4 separate regions of the Homo sapiens genome follow, and regions 2, 3 and 4 are each reported to be linked to region 1. The links are microRNA targets in miRTarBase. Many come from high-throughput screens and were not tested one by one. Region 1 holds a microRNA gene; each other region holds the end of a gene's coding sequence.
What was found. The annotated mature microRNA hsa-miR-7152-3p reads UCUGGUCCUGGACAGGAGGC and lies in region 1 at 1,376-1,395, opposite strand. An mRNA with a match to its seed (bases 2 to 7 or 8) in the 3' UTR can be bound and repressed. Matches are read on the target gene's strand: a 7mer-m8 pairs with bases 2 to 8, a 7mer-A1 pairs with bases 2 to 7 and ends in A, and an 8mer does both.

Region 2: the mRNA of FEM1B is a reported target of hsa-miR-7152-3p. Seed matches in the 3' UTR shown: 7mer-m8 at 2,616-2,622.
Region 3: miRTarBase lists CX3CL1 as a target of hsa-miR-7152-3p. Seed matches in the 3' UTR shown: 7mer-m8 at 1,762-1,768.
Region 4: miRTarBase lists NFAM1 as a target of hsa-miR-7152-3p. The part of its 3' UTR that is shown has no 7-base or 8-base seed match.

Annotation. Positions count from the first base shown.
Region 1 is chr10:71,789,176-71,792,175 of GRCh38, reverse strand. MIR7152 (microRNA 7152) reads right to left here and starts at 1,429; the gene lies at 1,376-1,429. It overlaps CDH23 (cadherin related 23), which reads right to left. Exons shown (of 70, transcript NM_022124.6): 46 at 1,763-1,888; 47 at 841-1,044. RefSeq lists an enhancer at 989-1,888.
Region 2 is chr15:68,290,776-68,297,323 of GRCh38, forward strand. FEM1B (fem-1 homolog B) reads left to right here. Exons shown (of 2, transcript NM_015322.5): 2 at 1-5,087. The coding sequence ends at 467. It overlaps ITGA11 (integrin subunit alpha 11), which reads right to left. Exons shown (of 30, transcript NM_001004439.2): 30 at 5,757-6,548. Among named protein-coding and RNA genes, the nearest start is that of FEM1B, 16 kb to the left of the region's middle.
Region 3 is chr16:57,382,536-57,385,591 of GRCh38, forward strand. CX3CL1 (C-X3-C motif chemokine ligand 1) reads left to right here. Exons shown (of 3, transcript NM_002996.6): 3 at 1-2,509. The coding sequence ends at 497. Among named protein-coding and RNA genes, the nearest start is that of CX3CL1, 12 kb to the left of the region's middle. RefSeq lists enhancers at 1,177-1,867, 1,868-2,557, 1,977-2,136.
Region 4 is chr22:42,382,524-42,390,541 of GRCh38, forward strand. NFAM1 (NFAT activating protein with ITAM motif 1) reads right to left here. Exons shown (of 6, transcript NM_145912.8): 5 at 4,466-4,555; 6 at 1-2,697. The coding sequence ends at 2,638. Among named protein-coding and RNA genes, the nearest start is that of LINC01315, 17 kb to the left of the region's middle.

The sequences.
Region 1 (3,000 bases):
CTCATTGCTTCCTTTATCACATCATATTTTATTCTTTAATTTACCAGTATCTGTTTCTGGGCTACTTTGTCCTGGAGTCTTGTGCCCATATTGCATGGCCTTAAATACTGTAGCTTTATAATATGTTATAAAATCTGGTAAGCCAAATCTGGCTTATTATACTTATGTTTTTCAAAATTTTCTTATTCTTCCAGAAGTTATATTTGATTTTGATGGGAATCATGTTGATCCTATTTTGACTTTAAAATAGTCAGTCTTTCCATCTGGGAATTCAAATGGAGAATACTTAGGAATCTTGTAGGCCAGGCGTGGTGGCTCACACCTGTAATCCCAGCACTTTGGGAGGCTGAGGCGAGTGGATCACCTGAGGTCAGGAGTTTGCGACCAGCCTGGCCAACAGGGTGAAACCCCGTCTCTACTAAAAATACAAAAATTAGCTGGGTGTGGTGGTGGGCGCCTGTAATCCCAGCTACTCGGGAGGCTGAGGCAGGAGAATCACTTGAACCTGGGAGGCTGAGGTTGCAGTGAGCCGAGATTGTGCCATTGCACTCCAGCCTGGGCAACAAGAGCAAAACTCCGTCTTAAAAAAAAAAAAAGAAAAGAAAAGAAAAAGAAAGAAAGGAAAAAAGAATCTTGTTTTGCAGGCAAGATACAGAAGCTCAGAGGAGGGAAGCAGGGGCCCAGGTCTCCTGACTCCCTCTCCAGTGTGTTCTACACTCACCCTGCTGCCCATCTTTCTCCCCACTGGAGGCAAACTCCGTGTCCAACCTGAGGCTCCAGTCCCCTGTGACCACCAACCGGCCCCTGGTTGTGGGGTGCTGGGGCCTGTCCCCTGCTTACCAGGCGGGCAGTTCTCTAGCAGATGGACAGTGAGGGTGGCAGGGCTAAAGGTGGGCCGGTTGTCATTGTCATCCAGGATGGTGATGAGCAGGTGGGCCGTGCTGTTGAGCAGCCCGATGTCCTCAGCCAGCAGCAGCAGCTCCAGGATGGGTGGCGAGAATGCCTCCCGGTCAATGATGACACCTGACCTCACGGTCACCACACCTGGCACCCGGTGCCGCCAGCCAGGGAAACACACAGAAAAGGGGTGCGGTGGGAAGACAGGGCAAGAACCAACAGGGAGAGAGCAGAGAAAGACAGGGGCACCATGGGACAGAGATGAAAGAGGAGCAGAGGCAGTAACAAAATGACTTTCTCCCCCACAGGCTCAACCACCCGTGCTGAGGGAGGGCCCCATGCATTTCCTGTGGTTGTCCCCTCTGCAGGTGCCCTCTGCTGTCTTCAAGACTCTTGCCTGGGAAGAGTGACCCAGGGCACAGGGTTGACCGTCTCTGTTGACAGATGTGCTTTCCTGTCGGCACCTGTCACCAAAGCGGCCTCCTGTCCAGGACCAGACGGATGTGGCATGGTCTGGTTGGAGGACAGGAAAGTCGCTCTGGCTACTTCTGCTGGACTAGGGGCCTGAGCCTCTGGCCTGCGCATGGGGAGATGACGGGAGTGGGCTGGGGGGCTCCCGGCCCAGGCTGAGAGTTCGTGCACCAACAGAGGTCCTGTGTATCGTCTCCAAGCCTCTTCCCACGTCCCCCTGCCAGGCCACTGGGTGATATAACCCAGCTGCAAGATGGGGACTCTGGGCTGTGAAAAATGGGGTCTCCACGGACAGCCTGGGTCCAGCACTGAGAAGGGAGGCCCTCAATCCAGCAGTGTGGCCATCCCCACCCCAGAATCAGGCTGGGAGTGCTGGGTGGCACAGAGGCCTCACCGGTGCTGCTGTTGATGTCAAAGAGGCCACTCTGGGCACCCAGCAGCTGGTAGGTCACCACGGCGTAGATGTCTTGGTCTGCATCCAGGGCCAGGATGGGCCCATTGAGCACCGTGAGAGGGGTGCCTGGGCCAGAAGGAGAGGGGTCACCACAAGACCAACCCAGCCCCCTGCCCTCCCACCTCCCCTGCCCTGTCCCGGTGAGCCATGGCTGACGATGGATGAGAGGGGAGGGAGGTGAGGTGGACAGGGTGGGGAGGCCCTGGGGGCGGGCCTGCGGCAGCCTTGGCAGACTGAACGCAGATGCCTGGGGAGCGGCCTCAAAGCCCTGCTGGGGAGAAAACATGAGAGTGGTGAGCAAGGCCCCGGCTGCCCAGAGCCACATCTGCCTTCCCAGCAGCCTTTGAGGCTGGCCGCTCCTCGGGAGGGTCTGGGGCTCCCTGACATCCCCTCCCCATGTGTGGGTCTCGCCTGTCAACACATGTGTTCACACAATGCTCTGCCTTTGGGGGCCTGGCCATACATGACTAGAAAAACCCACTCATGTGTGCATCAAGTTCTGTGTTCACATGGCCACAGGCACTTGTCCAGGAGCACGCACAGGCCTGGGATTCCCTGGTTGTGCACTCGTGTGCCTCTGCAGGTGGGCATGTCTGCACACGAGCGCATCAGTGGGCACCCATGTACCTATATGTGTCTGTGCACATGTGTAACCCCACGCACATGCCTTGGTATGGACACACACGGGCACATGTGTGAGCATACACACAGACAGGTTTAAGAATGAAATTCACCTAGGGGGGATGCCCAGCCAGAGATGAGGAACAGGGGCTGGGGAGACTGGAGGAGTGCAGGTGCCACCTCAGGGGACATCACAGAGGAGATTCTGTCCCTCTGGAGGGAGGTGAGCCTGGTCAGTGCATGTGTGTGGGGAGAGGGCTACACTGGCCTACCCAGGACCCCCTGACCTCCCACTTCTAGTTATAGATGCTCCCCAGGGCTTCCAGAAGGCCCTGGGATGCCCTGCACTCCTGGGGTGGAGGGAGCAGTGAGGGGTGGACCCACTCCCCTCCGGGGTAGTCCTCACACCTTACATGCCCTTCTTGAGGGATGGTGGGGCAGCTCTCAGACCACCCTGGGGAACAATGACCACGACTGTCTCTTCCAACCAGACCTGTGGCTTCTTTGTGCTCATAGGAGGCCCGGGAGCCCCAGCCCACCATCTCCCGGAGCTGCAC
Region 2 (6,548 bases), not on the chromosome of region 1:
ACCTGATTCACCTTGATCCCAGAACTCGTGAAGGTTTCACCTTGCTGCATCTGGCTGTCAATTCCAATACTCCAGTTGATGATTTCCACACCAATGACGTCTGCAGCTTTCCAAATGCACTTGTCACAAAGCTCCTGCTGGACTGTGGTGCTGAGGTGAATGCCGTGGACAATGAGGGAAACAGTGCCCTTCATATTATCGTTCAGTACAACAGGCCCATCAGTGATTTTTTGACCTTGCACTCCATCATCATTAGCCTAGTTGAAGCCGGAGCTCACACTGACATGACGAATAAACAGAATAAGACTCCGCTAGACAAAAGTACAACTGGGGTATCTGAAATACTGCTTAAAACTCAAATGAAGATGAGTCTCAAGTGCCTGGCTGCCCGAGCAGTTCGGGCTAATGACATTAACTACCAAGACCAGATCCCCAGAACTCTTGAAGAGTTTGTTGGATTTCATTAAGTGACTGGATATGTAAAGTCGTTTAATGTGGTGCTAAAAAGTAAAGGACTTTTAATCACAGACAGTAGAATTATGTGTTCATAAATTCTGCTTTTCTTTCCACTACCCTTCCTCCCATCCCATCCTTCCTTAGTTCTGTATTTGTTTTTCTTGCCTCATGGTAATTGATTTCAGACAGACTTTAACAAAACCACATTGTTTTGGTGTAACTATAAGGTATTTGCATATTGGTTACCTATTTGTCTTTCTTTTTTTTAAAGGAACAGATATAAAATGTTTTGTTTATGTAACAAGGGACATTTATAATTTCAAGTTGATAATGTTTTAAACAGCTGCTTACAAAAGTATTTCTGTTAAGCCTATGTCAGCATGTTATCCATGCAGCAGTTTTGAGGATTTTATGAAGAAAAAGAGCTAAAAAGGAACATTAAGAGGAATGGGATATCCAGGTGTTCTGCACATGCCAAACTGCTGTAGATAGTTTACACTCTTCCATTATTTATACGGAGTGATGCAGCACATTTTAGCATTCAGGAGGATTTTTAAAAAATAGCTGCAGATTAATCTGGAAAATGTGCTAATTTAATAATAGTTACAAATTTATAAATTTAAATCCATTTGAAATTGTTGCATTATGCTGGGTAGTATATACAAAATGGTTATCATCTTAAACCAACTTTTCAGAGAATCTTGATGGACTCTGCCTTTAGGCTTGAATTCTTCAAAGTCTATTTTAATGAAATTTATCTAAATTGCAGCAGTCTATTTGATTCAGCTCATAGACATGTAAAAATTATGAATGCTGTTTTCTTATGAAACAAATTGTCACAGTGTAGTTATACATTCTATTTTTGTCCCCTTTTCCCTTTTTCTCCTGTATCTTTTAAAATTTGGAAACTACTTTTCCAGAAGGCATTATTTATGCCTCCCTAATAAGGTATTTTACTTATGACAGATGAAAAGGAACCAGGATATGTTTGAATTTTTTCACTTTCTTAGTCTGTGACAAGAAGTAGAAATATCACTAGTGTGGTATAGGAACTTACATGTTTTTTATGATGAAAATAATTCTCAATGCCACTTGAAAGGTAATTGTGTCTGAGAGCTGCAAATTTTTCAACCACAAAATGTCACTTATTCCTACAGGCTATACAGAGGTCTTTATGGTTTTTTTGTTTTGTTTTAATGGCAACATTGTAACTGTCAAACTAAAAGGGTATTCTGTGATTATCTTTTAAGCATTACAGAAATTCAAGTGAAAGTTATATGCTTATTTCTATTGATGTTAAAAATGATAATGAAAGCAAAATTAGCTGTATCTGTAATTTTCTCTCTAGTGCCAAATGAATGCCTTAGCTACTCATAGTGCATGGTACTGTAAGTGAAGACCTGTAGCTTTTTTTTTTTCTTTAATGAAAAGCATTATAATGATGTAGCAGCATCAGATATAAACTTAAAAAAAAAGGTTTCAATTAACATTTTATATATGGATAATGCTTTGTAAAGTGTAAGAGAAAGGTTGCAGTTGGATCAGTATAAAACAATGACCAAGCCAAAATCAGCACCCTAGGGCCTTAAATAAAATAGAGATACCCCACAAAATGAAATATTTTGAAGGATGGGAGGGGACAGAAGGGGGGACTATCCCCCAAGGATGCAAGATACTTTTTACAGTTGCTATCATTATACTTTGTCTTCTTGCTTCAGTTAGGAAGGTTTTGATGGTAAATTCTGTCATGGTAATAGATACCTATTTTCCTAACCTGAGATTTTACAAGGAAGGTTTTTAGGTTGGCTTAAATGGAGGTATTTATTTGAGTGAGCCCTAATTTGAAAATTACCAGACTTGATCCTCCTGGTATGAATCAAGGAAATACTGTACCTTGCTCTTAGCAACTCTCAGTGGCCTGAAAGAGAAAATGCACTTCTTCAAGGTGAGTGAATCATGCTTTTTCCACAGTTCAGATCAGACCCTTTATTTTTCAAACTACAAGGCCTGCTTATTGGACAGTCTAAGGAATAGCTTTGATACTTGGTATTCAGTTGGTTCCATTATTAATGTATATTATTTTTATTTAAACATCAAAACTTAAAATATCAGATAATGTTGCATGTTTTAAAAACACATTTCATCCCTTTGGCTACCCAGGACCAGCACTATTTAAGACACTGCTTATTTATAAAATGAGAATAATGATTATATGTACATATTCAGACATCAAAATTTAATGACATTCTATTTTGAGAAGGGAAGACAATGCTGAAGAAAGTAAAACTGTTGATTGAAATGCTGACAGGGTGGAGAACGAATTTGAAGACAGTGGAATAAACTATGAACTATGCTAATGGTAATTAGATTTTTTGTTTGTTTAGTATAGTGGTAAATTGTGTAGTATCTTGCTGAGAATCTAATTCTATCTTGTAAAATCAATCCAAATGTGTATTGTGAAACACCTGTATAAAATCATTTTTGAAATAAGTGATCTACATGCCTGTTTTTTTAAAATGTTTTTGGTAGAATTGTTTGAAAATATGTTTAGCCAGACCCTTCCCCAACTTAATTTTTTTTTAAAAAAGGAAAATAGGTAAGAAAATGATAGTTCTATATCTCAGCCCTCTGTGAACTCTAGGCTGTCTCCATTTTGCAGCCACTTTGGTCATTTGATGTTTACTATTGGTATACTTATGCTTTGAATTGTAAATCTTCATTGATGGTATTACAGATTCAACCAAAACTTCTCTGTCCTGTTCAGTAATTGTTATATAAATCTGGATGAGCTAGGGAGGCCCAGGTGGATGTTTTCATTCGCAAATCATGAGAAACTTAAGTGGGTTTTATGCACTTGATAGAGTTGGCAAAATTGAACTATGAAGTTAACTATTTAACTCAAGGAATGGGCGGCAAACCCATCCCCTCGATTGATAAAGAAGGGGAACATTTTTACATTAGAACTGACACTGAAAACATAGCTTTTTCAGTCCACCCTGGTTGCTCTAGTAGCCCACAGCCCAATCACGTTAAGGTTCTTTGCTGTGGGAATTTTAAATAAACCAAACCCCAAAGCAGACCATCTGTAAGCTTTGGTCTGCTTGTTTCTGAGAAGGGTTTTATTTCATTATACTAATAGTGGACTAATAATTGGTAATTGTGAGAACTTAGGTATGATAACATTGTTTGAAGTAAAATATGATTTGGGGGCAGCAGCTTTCTAAATACCAACTCTGTTTGACAAATGTTTTGAAAATTAAAATTTCAAGTGAGCAACACCCTGTTAAGAGTTTTCACTATAGTTGAGGCAGCTACTTTATGAATAAGACCACTTTGGGTTATTTAAGCAGAAGCGTTTCTTTTTTTTTTTTGGAATGGGGTGGGATGAGGAGTGAGTTGCCAGACCTTTGATTAGTTTGCTGGTTTAGAAACAGCCAGTGGCTGAATTAGTGAGTAAATGAATGAAAGTATAAAGGACTTGTTTTTTATGATAGATTTTCTGTAAGAATCTTAAATGTTCCTTTTCAAATTAGATGTGTTGATGCACACATGACTATTCTGTTTTTCTCACTGACTATATAACATTAAAAAGGGGTTAAAGAAAACAAAACTCTGCCTTTTGTGCTATGAAATATTTTTAGTCCAGAGGTTTTAAGCTGTGTGTCCATTCCTACTCTGAAAATGCATAGCTTTGTTCTGGATGTCATCTCTTGAAAGTAGAAAACTCCTATGTGTTTATCACATTGCAGGGCTTTCTTATGTATTTCTGGCAGACTTGCCCAAATCTTTAGATGGGCTGGGTTATACAGCATGCCCTCCCCCAAATAAGGGATCTGAAATAAATACTACACTATTGATAGTGGAGATATATTAATTTTTAAAACTGTAAAGTAAATGTGGTCTCTAGGTTTGTGGTGTGTACCTTTGTGTTAATGTGTAGGGAAGAGACAGTGACTTGATGGTTATGGGGAGTGTATCTTGATGTGTGTATAGGGGTAAGTATTGCTAAATTATTTACAGCTTTTATTCAGGGTGAGTCATGTGATGAATGGCCTAATCAGAAAAGTGAAGGAGCGAAGATGCAAGCTTGCCAAATGATGAAATGAACAAGATTTTGTATCTATTTTTTATCAGGTGTTGTAAAATTTGTGCATGGCTTTTTGTTGTTGTTGCTTAGTAACTGGTAGAGGAGAAAAGATGAGGAAAGAAACTCAGCTTTCCTCACAGTCTTTTCAAAGGTACACAGTTGGGGAGTAAAATCTGACTGGCCTAATCGATGGAAAAGACCCTGTCCTTTTCACCCCATCCTGCAATCCTCCGTGCAGAGGAACTACACTGTTGTATTCTAGTAATTCACTGTGATTTATAACAAACCGGTGATGTCATTCTATTGTGCACTTTTGTCAAACCATTTATGTGACTTTAATAAACATAGTAAACTTGCTGACTGCACCAGAGGTCCATTAGTGATTTATATATTGCATGACATTTTCTATTTGAGTTTGACATGTAGAGTCATTTTTAGTTTCATGGCAATTGACAGTCCTAATAACTCAGCTAATTTGAAACTAACAATCTTGCTGTGTAAAAGGAAAAAATGGTGTTTGTGTTCAGTAAATGTTTGAAAAAAACTACTTTGAGGTTTGTGTCTTTATTAATTATTCAGTGTGCCTTAGTTGCGATGTTCTTTTGTTGAGTGCCTTAAAGTTGTCAAAGTTATATATGTGCATGGGAAAAAATTCACGTAGTAAAGAAAAATTCAAATATATATTTTAAAAGTTCCCTTTTCATCTCTCCCCGCCTCCTATTTGGACTCTGCAGAGACAATCACTATTAATAGTTTTTTGAGTAGCTTCCCAGAATGTTTCTGTGCACATATGTATTATTTCTCCTTTTCAGTTTTTAAAATGCAAATGAACTTCTACCTTTGCAACGCTATTCTGTATCTTATCTTTTTCATGTAATATATCTTAGGCATTTTCCATTTCTATATGTATAGGTTTTTAAAACAACTTCATAGCAATTAATTCTGTTGATGGATTGAAAATGTATTTAACTAGATTTTATTGATGGACTTTTAGATTTTCAGTTTTTGATATTTCAAATAATGCTGCAGTCAACATCCTTAAGTACCATACTTAAAGGACAAATTCATTCCTAGTACTGGAACTTGGTTTAGTGACTACTTAAAATCTTGACAGAAGTTATCAAATTGCCTTCCATCTCTCTACATCTTTATTGACATCAGATCTAATCATTTAATTTTTGCAAAGTTGTGATTAATGAAAAATAGCATTTCATGGTTTGATTTGTATGCCTTTATTATGAGTAACATTGAACACTTTCATATATTTATTGACTATTGGTGTTTGCTTTGGGGTTGTGTGTGTTTTTTTTCTACTTGTTAGAAGTTCCTTAGAAGTTTGAGGACATTTTCTCTGTCATGTAATAGTTGTAGCTTATTTACTTTAAATATGGTACTTTTGTATCCAAAGTTTACATTTTTCTATAGTCAAATTTATCACAATTTAAAAAAATGGATTCTGAGTTTTAGATCCTGCTTGTAAGGCTGTCTCTATTCCAAGTCATACTTTTTTTTTTTTTCCCCCATGATCTATTTGAAAAAGACACTTTTATGGCTTCCCTTCCCTTCTTTCTCCTTCTCTTCTTTGGTTTAAAATGTTGATTTTCCTATAATTTGTTTGGTTTTTGTTTGTTTGTTTTTTGAGACAGGGTTTCATTCTGTCACCCAGGCTGGAGTGCAGTGGTGCCATCATGGCTTACTGTCGCCTTGATCTTCCGGGCTCAAGTGATCCTCTCACCTCAGCCTCCCAAGTAGCTGGGACTACAGGTATGTGCCACCATGCCCAGCTAATTCTTTTTATTTTGGTATTTTTTGTAGAGATGGGGTTTTGCCATGATGCCTAGGCTGGTCTTGAACTCCTGGGTTCAAGCAGTCCTCCCACCTCAGCCTCTCAAAGTGTTGGGATTACAGATGTGAGCCACCACACCTGGCCTTGGACTAGTATTTCTTCATTTGTCTTTTTTAAGTGGGGAGGTGGGAGTGGCTAACTTTTTTCATTATTACGTGT
Region 3 (3,056 bases), not on the chromosome of region 1:
CCCCAGCCCCAGAGGAGAATGCTCCGTCTGAAGGCCAGCGTGTGTGGGGTCAGGGACAGAGCCCCAGGCCAGAGAACTCTCTGGAGCGGGAGGAGATGGGTCCCGTGCCAGCGCACACGGATGCCTTCCAGGACTGGGGGCCTGGCAGCATGGCCCACGTCTCTGTGGTCCCTGTCTCCTCAGAAGGGACCCCCAGCAGGGAGCCAGTGGCTTCAGGCAGCTGGACCCCTAAGGCTGAGGAACCCATCCATGCCACCATGGACCCCCAGAGGCTGGGCGTCCTTATCACTCCTGTCCCTGACGCCCAGGCTGCCACCCGGAGGCAGGCGGTGGGGCTGCTGGCCTTCCTTGGCCTCCTCTTCTGCCTGGGGGTGGCCATGTTCACCTACCAGAGCCTCCAGGGCTGCCCTCGAAAGATGGCAGGAGAGATGGCGGAGGGCCTTCGCTACATCCCCCGGAGCTGTGGTAGTAATTCATATGTCCTGGTGCCCGTGTGAACTCCTCTGGCCTGTGTCTAGTTGTTTGATTCAGACAGCTGCCTGGGATCCCTCATCCTCATACCCACCCCCACCCAAGGGCCTGGCCTGAGCTGGGATGATTGGAGGGGGGAGGTGGGATCCTCCAGGTGCACAAGCTCCAAGCTCCCAGGCATTCCCCAGGAGGCCAGCCTTGACCATTCTCCACCTGCCAGGGACAGAGGGGGTGGCCTCCCAACTCACCCCAGCCCCAAAACTCTCCTCTGCTGCTGGCTGGTTAGAGGTTCCCTTTGACGCCATCCCAGCCCCAATGAACAATTATTTATTAAATGCCCAGCCCCTTCTGACCCATGCTGCCCTGTGAGTACTACAGTCCTCCCATCTCACACATGAGCATCAGGCCAGGCCCTCTGCCCACTCCCTGCAACCTGATTGTGTCTCTTGGTCCTGCTGCAGTTGCCAGTCACCCCGGCCACCTGCGGTGCTATCTCCCCCAGCCCCATCCTCTGTACAGAGCCCACGCCCCCACTGGTGACATGTCTTTTCTTGCATGAGGCTAGTGTGGTGTTTCCTGGCACTGCTTCCAGTGAGGCTCTGCCCTTGGTTAGGCATTGTGGGAAGGGGAGATAAGGGTATCTGGTGACTTTCCTCTTTGGTCTACACTGTGCTGAGTCTGAAGGCTGGGTTCTGATCCTAGTTCCACCATCAAGCCACCAACATACTCCCATCTGTGAAAGGAAAGAGGGAGGTAAGGAATACCTGTCCCCCTGACAACACTCATTGACCTGAGGCCCTTCTCTCCAGCCCCTGGATGCAGCCTCACAGTCCTTACCAGCAGAGCACCTTAGACAGTCCCTGCCAATGGACTAACTTGTCTTTGGACCCTGAGGCCCAGAGGGCCTGCAAGGGAGTGAGTTGATAGCACAGACCCTGCCCTGTGGGCCCCCAAATGGAAATGGGCAGAGCAGAGACCATCCCTGAAGGCCCCGCCCAGGCTTAGTCACTGAGACAGCCCGGGCTCTGCCTCCCATCACCCGCTAAGAGGGAGGGAGGGCTCCAGACACATGTCCAAGAAGCCCAGGAAAGGCTCCAGGAGCAGCCACATTCCTGATGCTTCTTCAGAGACTCCTGCAGGCAGCCAGGCCACAAGACCCTTGTGGTCCCACCCCACACACGCCAGATTCTTTCCTGAGGCTGGGCTCCCTTCCCACCTCTCTCACTCCTTGAAAACACTGTTCTCTGCCCTCCAAGACCTTCTCCTTCACCTTTGTCCCCACCGCAGACAGGACCAGGGATTTCCATGATGTTTTCCATGAGTCCCCTGTTTGTTTCTGAAAGGGACGCTACCCGGGAAGGGGGCTGGGACATGGGAAAGGGGAAGTTGTAGGCATAAAGTCAGGGGTTCCCTTTTTTGGCTGCTGAAGGCTCGAGCATGCCTGGATGGGGCTGCACCGGCTGGCCTGGCCCCTCAGGGTCCCTGGTGGCAGCTCACCTCTCCCTTGGATTGTCCCCGACCCTTGCCGTCTACCTGAGGGGCCTCTTATGGGCTGGGTTCTACCCAGGTGCTAGGAACACTCCTTCACAGATGGGTGCTTGGAGGAAGGAAACCCAGCTCTGGTCCATAGAGAGCAAGACGCTGTGCTGCCCTGCCCACCTGGCCTCTGCACTCCCCTGCTGGGTGTGGCGCAGCATATTCAGGAAGCTCAGGGCCTGGCTCAGGTGGGGTCACTCTGGCAGCTCAGAGAGGGTGGGAGTGGGCCCAATGCACTTTGTTCTGGCTCTTCCAGGCTGGGAGAGCCTTCCAGGGGTGGGACACCCTGTGATGGGGCCCTGCCTCCTTTGTGAGGAAGCCGCTGGGGCCAGTTGGTCCCCCTTCCATGGACTTTGTTAGTTTCTCCAAGCAGGACATGGACAAGGATGATCTAGGAAGACTTTGGAAAGAGTAGGAAGACTTTGGAAAGACTTTTCCAACCCTCATCACCAACGTCTGTGCCATTTTGTATTTTACTAATAAAATTTAAAAGTCTTGTGAATCAATATGGGTGATTTCTCTGGGGACAAGTGCAGCAATCAGGGCTTCGGAGGGGAAGGAGTGGGGCAGGGCTGGGGGCAAGACCCCTTTCAGCCCCGGAGACCCCTATCTCCAGTTCACCTGGGGCAGAAAAGCAGACATTTTTACAGTCAGCAAGAGAAGAAGCACCAGGGATTAGAGTGAGGAGTGCCGAGCCCTCAGCCCAGCTCTGTTCTGCCCGGCTGTGTGATGTTGGGCCAGGGCCCTCACCTCTCTGGGTCTTATAAATGTGAGGCCTCTCCTAGTCTGGCAGGACTCAGAATCCCTCATGAAGCCCTACCCCATGCCTGCCGAACCACCATCCCAGGGGCCCTAGGACCACTCTCAGTGAACTGGTGCCCCATGGGAGGAAACTGGCCCATAGTTTCCTCTTTGTGGCCTTCCTGGTTCAGATGAAGATCAAAGAGGGATTACTTCTTAAGGGACTTGGGAGTTCATAGATGTGCCCCAAGTGTGAGCCTCGTGGTGGCCCCTAAGCTCTTCAGTGTTCTGGGAAGCTTCATAAGAGC
Region 4 (8,018 bases), not on the chromosome of region 1:
AGTGGAAAGCAAGCCTGCACCCCAGGAGCTCCCATTCATACCCTCTCTGTCCCCTCTCTGTTCTTCCTCCTCCCGCCTGCCCCATGCACCTCCCACCCTGAAGTTCCCTGCCACCCCTCGCCCTGTGCCAGCTTGTCTCTGCAGGCTCTCAGTCCTGGGGGCTGGAGAACAGGTGCTCAGTCCTCTTTGCTGCCCACAGAAGTCTCAGAACATTCTTGCCCCACCCTCCCTTGGGCCAAAGCCCTTTAGGGTCCCGTCCTTTCATGCTGTGCTCTCCTCCTCCTCCTCCTCCTCCCTGCCTCTCTCCTTGCTCACTGAAGACCTCAGCACCCACTGCCTCCCAGCCTTGCCCTGAACCAAGCACAGACGACCACCACGCTGGCAATGTCTCTGTCCACCAGAGGGGTGATGGGTCAGCCCCCAAGAACCTCCTACGCCACAGGGAGGAGTTGGAATTTTATTCCAAGTGAGGCAAAAACCATGCAAGGTATAGAGCAGGGGAGGCCAAGGCCAGGTGTGGGTTTAATCGGGGTCTGTCGGTGGCAGGGCAGCTGCAGGGAGGCCGTGTTGGTGATGCCTGGGCCAGGGCACAGTGGTAAAGTTTAACCCAGGCTCCCCTGTCTACCCCTGAAAAAGACTGGAAAATGCTGAGTCCCAGCCAAGGGTCCAGGGTCTAGGAGCTGAGGTCAGAGAGGCCCAGGAGGTGGGGGAGGCAGGCCCAGTGAGGTGGCCCTCTCCTGGTCTTGCTGGCTTCGGTTTTCCCAGGGGAGCTCACTGCACCCTGAGCGGCATTGTCCCCCATTGCCCTGACCCTTGCCCCCACCTCCTTGGCTGGTGGAGCCAGGAGCCTGGGAGGCCCCTGTGCACACCTGGCAGCTTCACCTCCCCAAACAGGCCCGGAGTTCATTCAAATCCAGCCTCTGGGAGCAGGGGCCTTGCCACTCGGTTATGTGAGCCTGCTAAAGCCCTCCTTGCCATGTGTGCTTGCAGGCGGGGGCCCAGAACCAAGTTGGGAGGCCACTGGCTGTCCTGTGGGACCAGAGAAGTCTGGTGCCACCCTAGCAGGGCCAAGGGACTTCTTCTGGACGTCAGTCTGTGCCCAGCCTCTACCACCAGCTTTCCCTTCCCTGCAGGGAGGGGCATGACCTGCAGAACCAAAGGTGCTTCTGTGAGCCAGTAGCCCAGTGCTGCTTGGGGGCAGGGGCGGGGCCTGTGCCTTGGGTTCCCCCCCCTCCCTGGGCACATTTGGGGTTGGGGCAGCCCACACGGTGGGGTGGGAAGATTGACCTGCCCATTTTACAAATGAGCAAAGGTGGGAGAACTCAGGGAGACATGGGGGAGCAGAGGGAGGAAGCAGAGCCCAACAGCCCGGGGCACCCGGACCCCAGCCACTGCCTGCCTGTGGATGGGTTTCTGGCCACGGTGCAGGGCTACTGCGAGGAGGAAATGAGGGTGATGTGGGCACCTGAAACAGCAGAAATGGCTCAGGGCCAGGCACTGGGGAGCCACTGTCCCCATGGGGCTTGAGCTTCTGCCTCAGAGGGACCTTCCGGCTGCCATTGAGGGTCCCAGCACCAAACCCCACAGCTGGACCACTTGGGACCTCAATCCACAGGGGGCCAGGGCTGCGGCCTATGGCAGATAAAGATAGAGGAGGAGGGCTGGATGAAGCCACAGGTGGTGGGCACAGGATAGGCCAGACAGAAGGGACTTTGGGGGACTCCACCTTGGGTAGAAGGAGGGACAGCTGAGGTCCTGTGGTGGAGAAGGCCTGGAGCAGAGGGTGACCAAGGAGATGACAGAGTGCACGTACAGGGCCAGGCCAATGGGAGTGGGAACCCTTGGGAGAGGGAGCTTCAGGCCATTCATTCAGTTCCTGTTTAGCCAGCACCCTCCTCCCCTCATCTGTCCCTCTGCCCTCACCCCAACATGCCAGAATCTCCTTCCTCTCCAGCTTGTACCCAAGCCCTCTCTGCTCCATGCCCCCAGCCTGCTGACCACCTCTCAGCCATGTCCTGGGCCTCCAGATCTGTCCCTGATCCTAGTCTTGCCTCTGAGGGGTCCATCATCCTTGTCTGTCCCCCAGACCTCCCACGCCAGCCCCTGCTCCCACCCTGCCTGGCTGCCTCGTGCCTCTGGCCCAGCTGGGTAGGTAGGGATTTGCATAGCTGCTCCCCAGCTCCTCCATACCTCGGCTCCCCACACAGCACTGCTAGGCGCCCCTGCAGGGTCCTCCCTCAGCTCAGAGGCTGCCCTACTGGCTGAGGTGCAGGCTGGTGCCAAGAGAGCATGCTGCTCTGTCAGCATGAGGCAGTGAGCAGGGCTCTGGGCAAGGGTGGCATCCAGGAAAGCCCTTGAAGACTGAGGGGCGCTTTGCTGGTTGGGCCAAGGGAGGAAGGGCCTGCCTGGCAGAAGGAACAGCCTGGGCAAAGGCCCCAAGATGGGAAAGCCTTGGTGGTTGGGGCATAGAATGGGGGGGCAGTGGGGCCGGCCAAGACAGGAAGGGCCTTGAATGTGAGGGTGAAATGATGGGGTGTCCCTGGGGGCCTTACTCCCAACTCAGATCAAGTCCTTTGGTGGCAGGGGCTGCCCCGGTCCTCTGACCCAGGGCAAGCTCTATGAGCGGTGGAGCCCATCCTAGAGATTTTCATAGACCAGGTTAAGTTCGCCATCATCTTCGAATCTATGCGGTCTCTCCTGGATAGAAAAGAAGAAAGGGAGGGAAGGAGAGAAAGAGAGAGAATGACCATTAAGAATGAACTTGCACTAATTTAGTTTTAGCCAGAGGGCAACAGATCACTTCCTGTGTAGCTTTGATGGGGGGCCTGCCCTCTGTCTCCAAGCCCACCTCCCCAGCCTCTTCCCCCACCATGCTGCCCCCACCCCTGCCCATTGCCCTCCAGCCACATGGGCCTGCCCTTCCAGCCTCAGAGCTTCCCCCACAGCTCTGCCCTCTGCCTTCTGCCCTATGTGTGGGATGCGCCTCCTCCCACAGACACACCTGTTCCATGACTGCCCCCTACTCACTCTGCCTGCGGGCTCATCATAGGGTCCCAGGGACCCCCTCCCTCCCTCCCCACCCTGGCTGGTCCCTCCCAGAAGAACACCCCTCACAACAGGGCTACAAATGCCTCTGTGTGTCCATGGGGTCAGCGACCTATTCCTGCAGACTATGGCTCCCAGAGGGTAGGGACATGCCTAGTTCTCCTGTCCAGCACCCCAGGGCCTGGCACAGGGTGGGCACTGCCGGAGATGTCCCTGCTTTCACTCAGGGTCTAGTTGAGGGCTGAGTATAGAAAGGGCTTTGAGAACAGGCGATTTAACAAATAGTGCCAGCCCGAGCCAGAGAAGGCCAAGTGCCAGGCGCCCGCACTCCCTGACAGATGTTCCAAGAGGCCTGTGGGCTCCTGTTCTGGCTGAACAACGCCTCACGCTTGACGGTGCTGGAAGCTCTGGTGCAGATGTTATTCAGCTTGGAACACATTTGAATTCAGAGGCAGTTGGTATTGCAGGAAAACACTGCTCATCCACTTTACAGATGAGCAAACAGGTTTAAGAGAGAAAGTATGGGCCGGGCGCGGTGCCTCACACCTTTAATCCCAGCACTTTGGGAGGCTGAGGTGGGTGAATCATGAGGTCAGGAGTTCGAGACCAGCCTGGCCAACATGGTGAAAACCTGTCTGTACTAAAAACACAAAAAATTAGCTGGGCACAGGGGCGGGCGCCTGTAATCCCAGCTACTCGGGAGGCTGAGGCAGGAGAATTGCTTGAACCTGAGAAGTGGAGGTTGCAGTGAGCTGAGATCGCGCCACTGCACTCTGGCCTGGGTGATGGAGCAAGACTCTGTCTCAAAACAAAAACAAAAACAAACAAACACACACACACACACACACACACACACACAAAACAAAAACAAAAAAAAAGAGAGAAAGTATGATTGGGTAATATGCCTGAGGCCCTATCATGACAATCACAGAACCCTGACCAGGCCAGCCCAGCTTCTACCAGCTCACACTCTAGCTCCAGACTTTAGCCAACACCAACCTGGGGGCAGCTGGAAGCCTAACACCCCTGTCTGACTGACCATGTGGACACTGTGCCCAGTGATAGTTACAGTGGCTCATAGTGCATGGGCACAGCTGGGTCCCAGGCAGCTCTCTCAGTACATTCTACCCTCACTGAACATCTATGAGGTGGGTACTGTTAGGTTGCTCAATCTGCACACAAGGAGATTCAGACACAGAGAAGTCAGACACCTCGGCCAGGGCTGCACAGTGGCTAAGGGACAGAGCAGGAACTCAAACGCACCAGTCCTCTTAACCAGCAGGCCAGCTGCCACCAGGAGATGGCTGGGATTCCACAGCAGGTGGCTCACTTCCATGTCCCATTTGCCCCCCCACTTCACCAGTGATGGGAGGGTCAGATGGAGCAAGAAGCCAGGCTTGGTGCCCCAGCGCCTGTGTACCTGGGAGAGGGGGCTCTGCTTGGCGGTGGGTGAGCTGCCATCCTCATTCTCGATGCAGGCATAGACCTCGGTCTCGCGGCGCTGCAGAGCCTACAGGAAACGGGGTGCCAGGATCAGGGGCAAGTGTGTAGAGGGGCAGTCCCTGGCCCCAGCAGCCAGCCCCCTGCCTGTTACACACCCCACCGTGGGAGCCCAGGGGAGGGTGAAGCCCAGCCACACCTTTGCACCTGCCACCCCCTTTCCCAGAGTCACCTTTCCCCTTCCCTGCCTGTAAAGGGCTGACCCCTCTCTGTTCTCGGCCACCTCCCTAACCTCCCTTAAGGACCTCCAGTAGAGCCTTGTATTCCACCTGGAGGGTTCTATCCAGGCTTCCACCTGGCTGGCAAGAGAAAGGGCCAGGCCTCCTCCTGCTGTCCCTGCCTGTCCCTAGGCTCTTAAGGGCTTGGCAGCCAGCAGCCCCCTGCATGATACCTGTGGCCACTGCTCCAATAGGATGCCCCCATGACCTCTGCCTTCACCCCCCTGTTCAAAGCCCCGGCCCCTGTGAGGGTCCTCCCACCCACCCATACCCTCTAGCTCTCCCCAACCCCCACCCCAGCCTGTATTCAAGGATAACCCAGGCACCCACTGGGGTCACACTCCCTGGTCATCGAGCCTGTGCCCTGCTGGGGGATTCCAGAGTCCAATCCTGGTTCTCAGCACACCCCTCATCCCCCTTGCCTGTCACTTTCCTTTCATTCCCCTCAGCCACCCCTCCTGGGCCACCTGGGCTGCTGTCATCACCCATATGCGCCTCCCTGGAGGTCTCAAGCTCCTGCCACCCACTCTCTGACCACGGTCCCCCCATAGCCCAAGCCTCCTCCCAGGAAGCCCGAGTCAGTATTGAGCTCAGCTGGGCTTGGAGGCCCTGTCCCTGGCCTCACGGCTCCTGCACTGGGTCATGTCGGAGTCCTGCTCCCACCAGCATCTCACCAGATGGGAACCCCTTGAGGGCAGGGACCATGCCTAGTCTATCTCTGGGTTTCTGATTCTACAGCTGTGCTTGGCACAAAGGGAGCAGCACCAAATGAGCTATGGTAAGGGGGCTTCCCCGTCACTCGGGTGTGTCCTAGGCCCACTCACTCTTGGCCCAGCTAAGAAAGGCCTAGCCAGAGACCTCAGGATGGTAGAAAGAACCGGGGCTTTAAAGTCAGACAAGAGTAGGTTCGAATCTCGGCTCTGACTGCGCCAGCCAAAGGCAACCCCTTAACCGCTCCATGCCTCAGTTTCCACGTCTGTAAAATGGGAATAATCACATCTATTTTGCAGGTTCAATGCATGATTAAATGAGATACTGTGCACAAAGGGCCACACACACAGTCAGGGAAGTAGTAGGTGCTTAATAAACTGCTGTTGAATGGTCAAGAGAAGCATGAGGCCTGCCCACCTCCCCTCTCTGGGATCACAGACCAGACCCTCCCTCAGAACCTGTTGGACTCCGGAGCAGAGCCCACCAACAGCCTAAGCAAGAGCAGAAGCCTTTCCTTCCTGAGTGTACGTGTCATATGGATGCCGGCTGGTTGCCAAGGAGGCGGTTTCCCTGGCAACAGGCAAGCAGGGGTTGCTGAGGCAGGCTGGAGAGACAGGTGGTGCTCAGAGGCAGGAGGAGGGCGGGAGGCGGGAGGGAAGGAGGGAGGGAGGCAGGCGCCAAGAGGCAGCTGGGCATGAAAATCCAAGTAATAAACCATTTGGCACTTGGGAGACCCTCACTTCAAGGGCATCAGACATGGGGATGGTGGGGCGGCCCTGAGGACGAGTTCAAGGGGTCTCTGAGCCAGAAACAGGCTGGGTCTGGGGAGAGGGGCTTCCAACCTGCTTCCTTGTAGGAAAGGGACCAGGGCTGCCCCAGGAAGAAGCCTCATTTGGAATGGAGGGAAACTTCCAAGTCCTGCCCTGCCTTGTGCGGCCTTCGTGCCTGTCCGGAGCACCAGCCACCCCAGCTGGTCTGGCACCCAGGATGGGAATGTTCCTCTGTGGTCCTGTGCCCCCAACCCTCCACCCACCCAGGCCCAGACCCCTTCTAAGTCTCACAGATCTGACAGTCTCTCTGAGCTGGATGATTCTGGTCACAGAGAAAAGGGAGGGGAGCAGTCTCCTTGCCCATGTCTCGGCAGGGGAGTAGATCTGGGGTTCCCTCTCCCTCCTGTCCAGCTCAGCCGGGCTGCCCAGAACACATGAGCCCAGAGAGGGCAGGTGATGCAGGGCCAGAGAAGACTAGCCTGCCCTGGGATGCTGCAGGCCCCCAACCCATACAGTGGGGGAGTCGGGGAATAGGCGAGTGGGCGGTGGTGCAGTGGGCAGGGCAGGAGCAGCTGCGGGGCTGAGAACAGGGGAGGCTGCGGAGGTGGCCACCAATTAGCAGCTGCTGAGTGAGGCCTTGACAAGTCCTGACCCGCTGGGTGCATTTATATGCAGGGTATGACCTGCATCACCAGGCTGTGAAATGCAGGGTGCAGCCTTGGCAACAGGACACCCTTTGAGCTCCTGAACCATCCCCTCCTGGCCCTCCCTTAGGTATGCCTGCTGGGAGATTGCACAGGCCTTGGAATGGGCCACTTGTGGGGCTGGGGCTGGGCTGGGCTGGGGGTTGGGGGCTGGGGTCTGGGAGGGTGCTGGGCTGTGGCTGGGCTGGGTGTTGGGGGCTGGGGGGCTGGGCTGGGCTGGGCTGGGGGCTGGGCTGGGCTGCGGCTGTTTGTCTGGGATCCAGGCCCCCCAGGCCCTTTGCCTCCTGCTGCCCAGTGGGCAATGGTGCTGACCCCAGTGATCATCCAACTGGCAGAGGTGTGAAGTCAATGCTGAGGCCTTCTCCAGGCAGGCTGAGGCCAGAGCTGAAGTTAGTGTCCCTGGGCCTGGACCTAGTCTGAGAGTCCTGGGCATTGGGGGTGATGGGTGAGATCTGGGGGTGTTGTTCGGGAAGGAACACACTCCGTGGAGAAGCAATTCAGCTCTAGACCAGGCAGTGGAAATGGGGAGCCCCTGAAGGCTTTCCTCACCATGCATCAGAGTCGTGTGTTAGAAAGGTCCCTCCGGCAGCAGCTCAGAGCAGGAACGGGAGCAGGAGGGCCTGGAGGCTGAGAGTAAGATCGAGGATGCTGGGCCAGGCTGGGCTGGGACAGAGCCGCCGGGTGGGTGGGGGTTCTGAGTACTGCTGCTGAATGAGGACGCAGATCACATCCTGACGCCTCACATTTGCTACTGAGTGTCCCCACTTCCCTGTGCTGGGCCCCGTGGAAACCCGGACACCCTGGGAGGTAAGAACAGGCTTCTGCCCATCATATAGTAGGTGACCCCTGAGCACTTACTGTGTGCTGGGTGCCAGGAGGCTCTAGATTGACAATAATCACAGTAAAAGGTAGCCATGAAGGCACTGGAGAGACTCAAAGAAGGAAGATAGGGAGGTTGGGATGGGACAGGAAAGGGAAGAGGGGGCAATTTTGAAAGGGAAGTCAGGAAAATGCTGCACTGAAAGGTCCCATGAGGGTAGAGAGCTGAAAGAATGAGGGAGCGGGCTGGG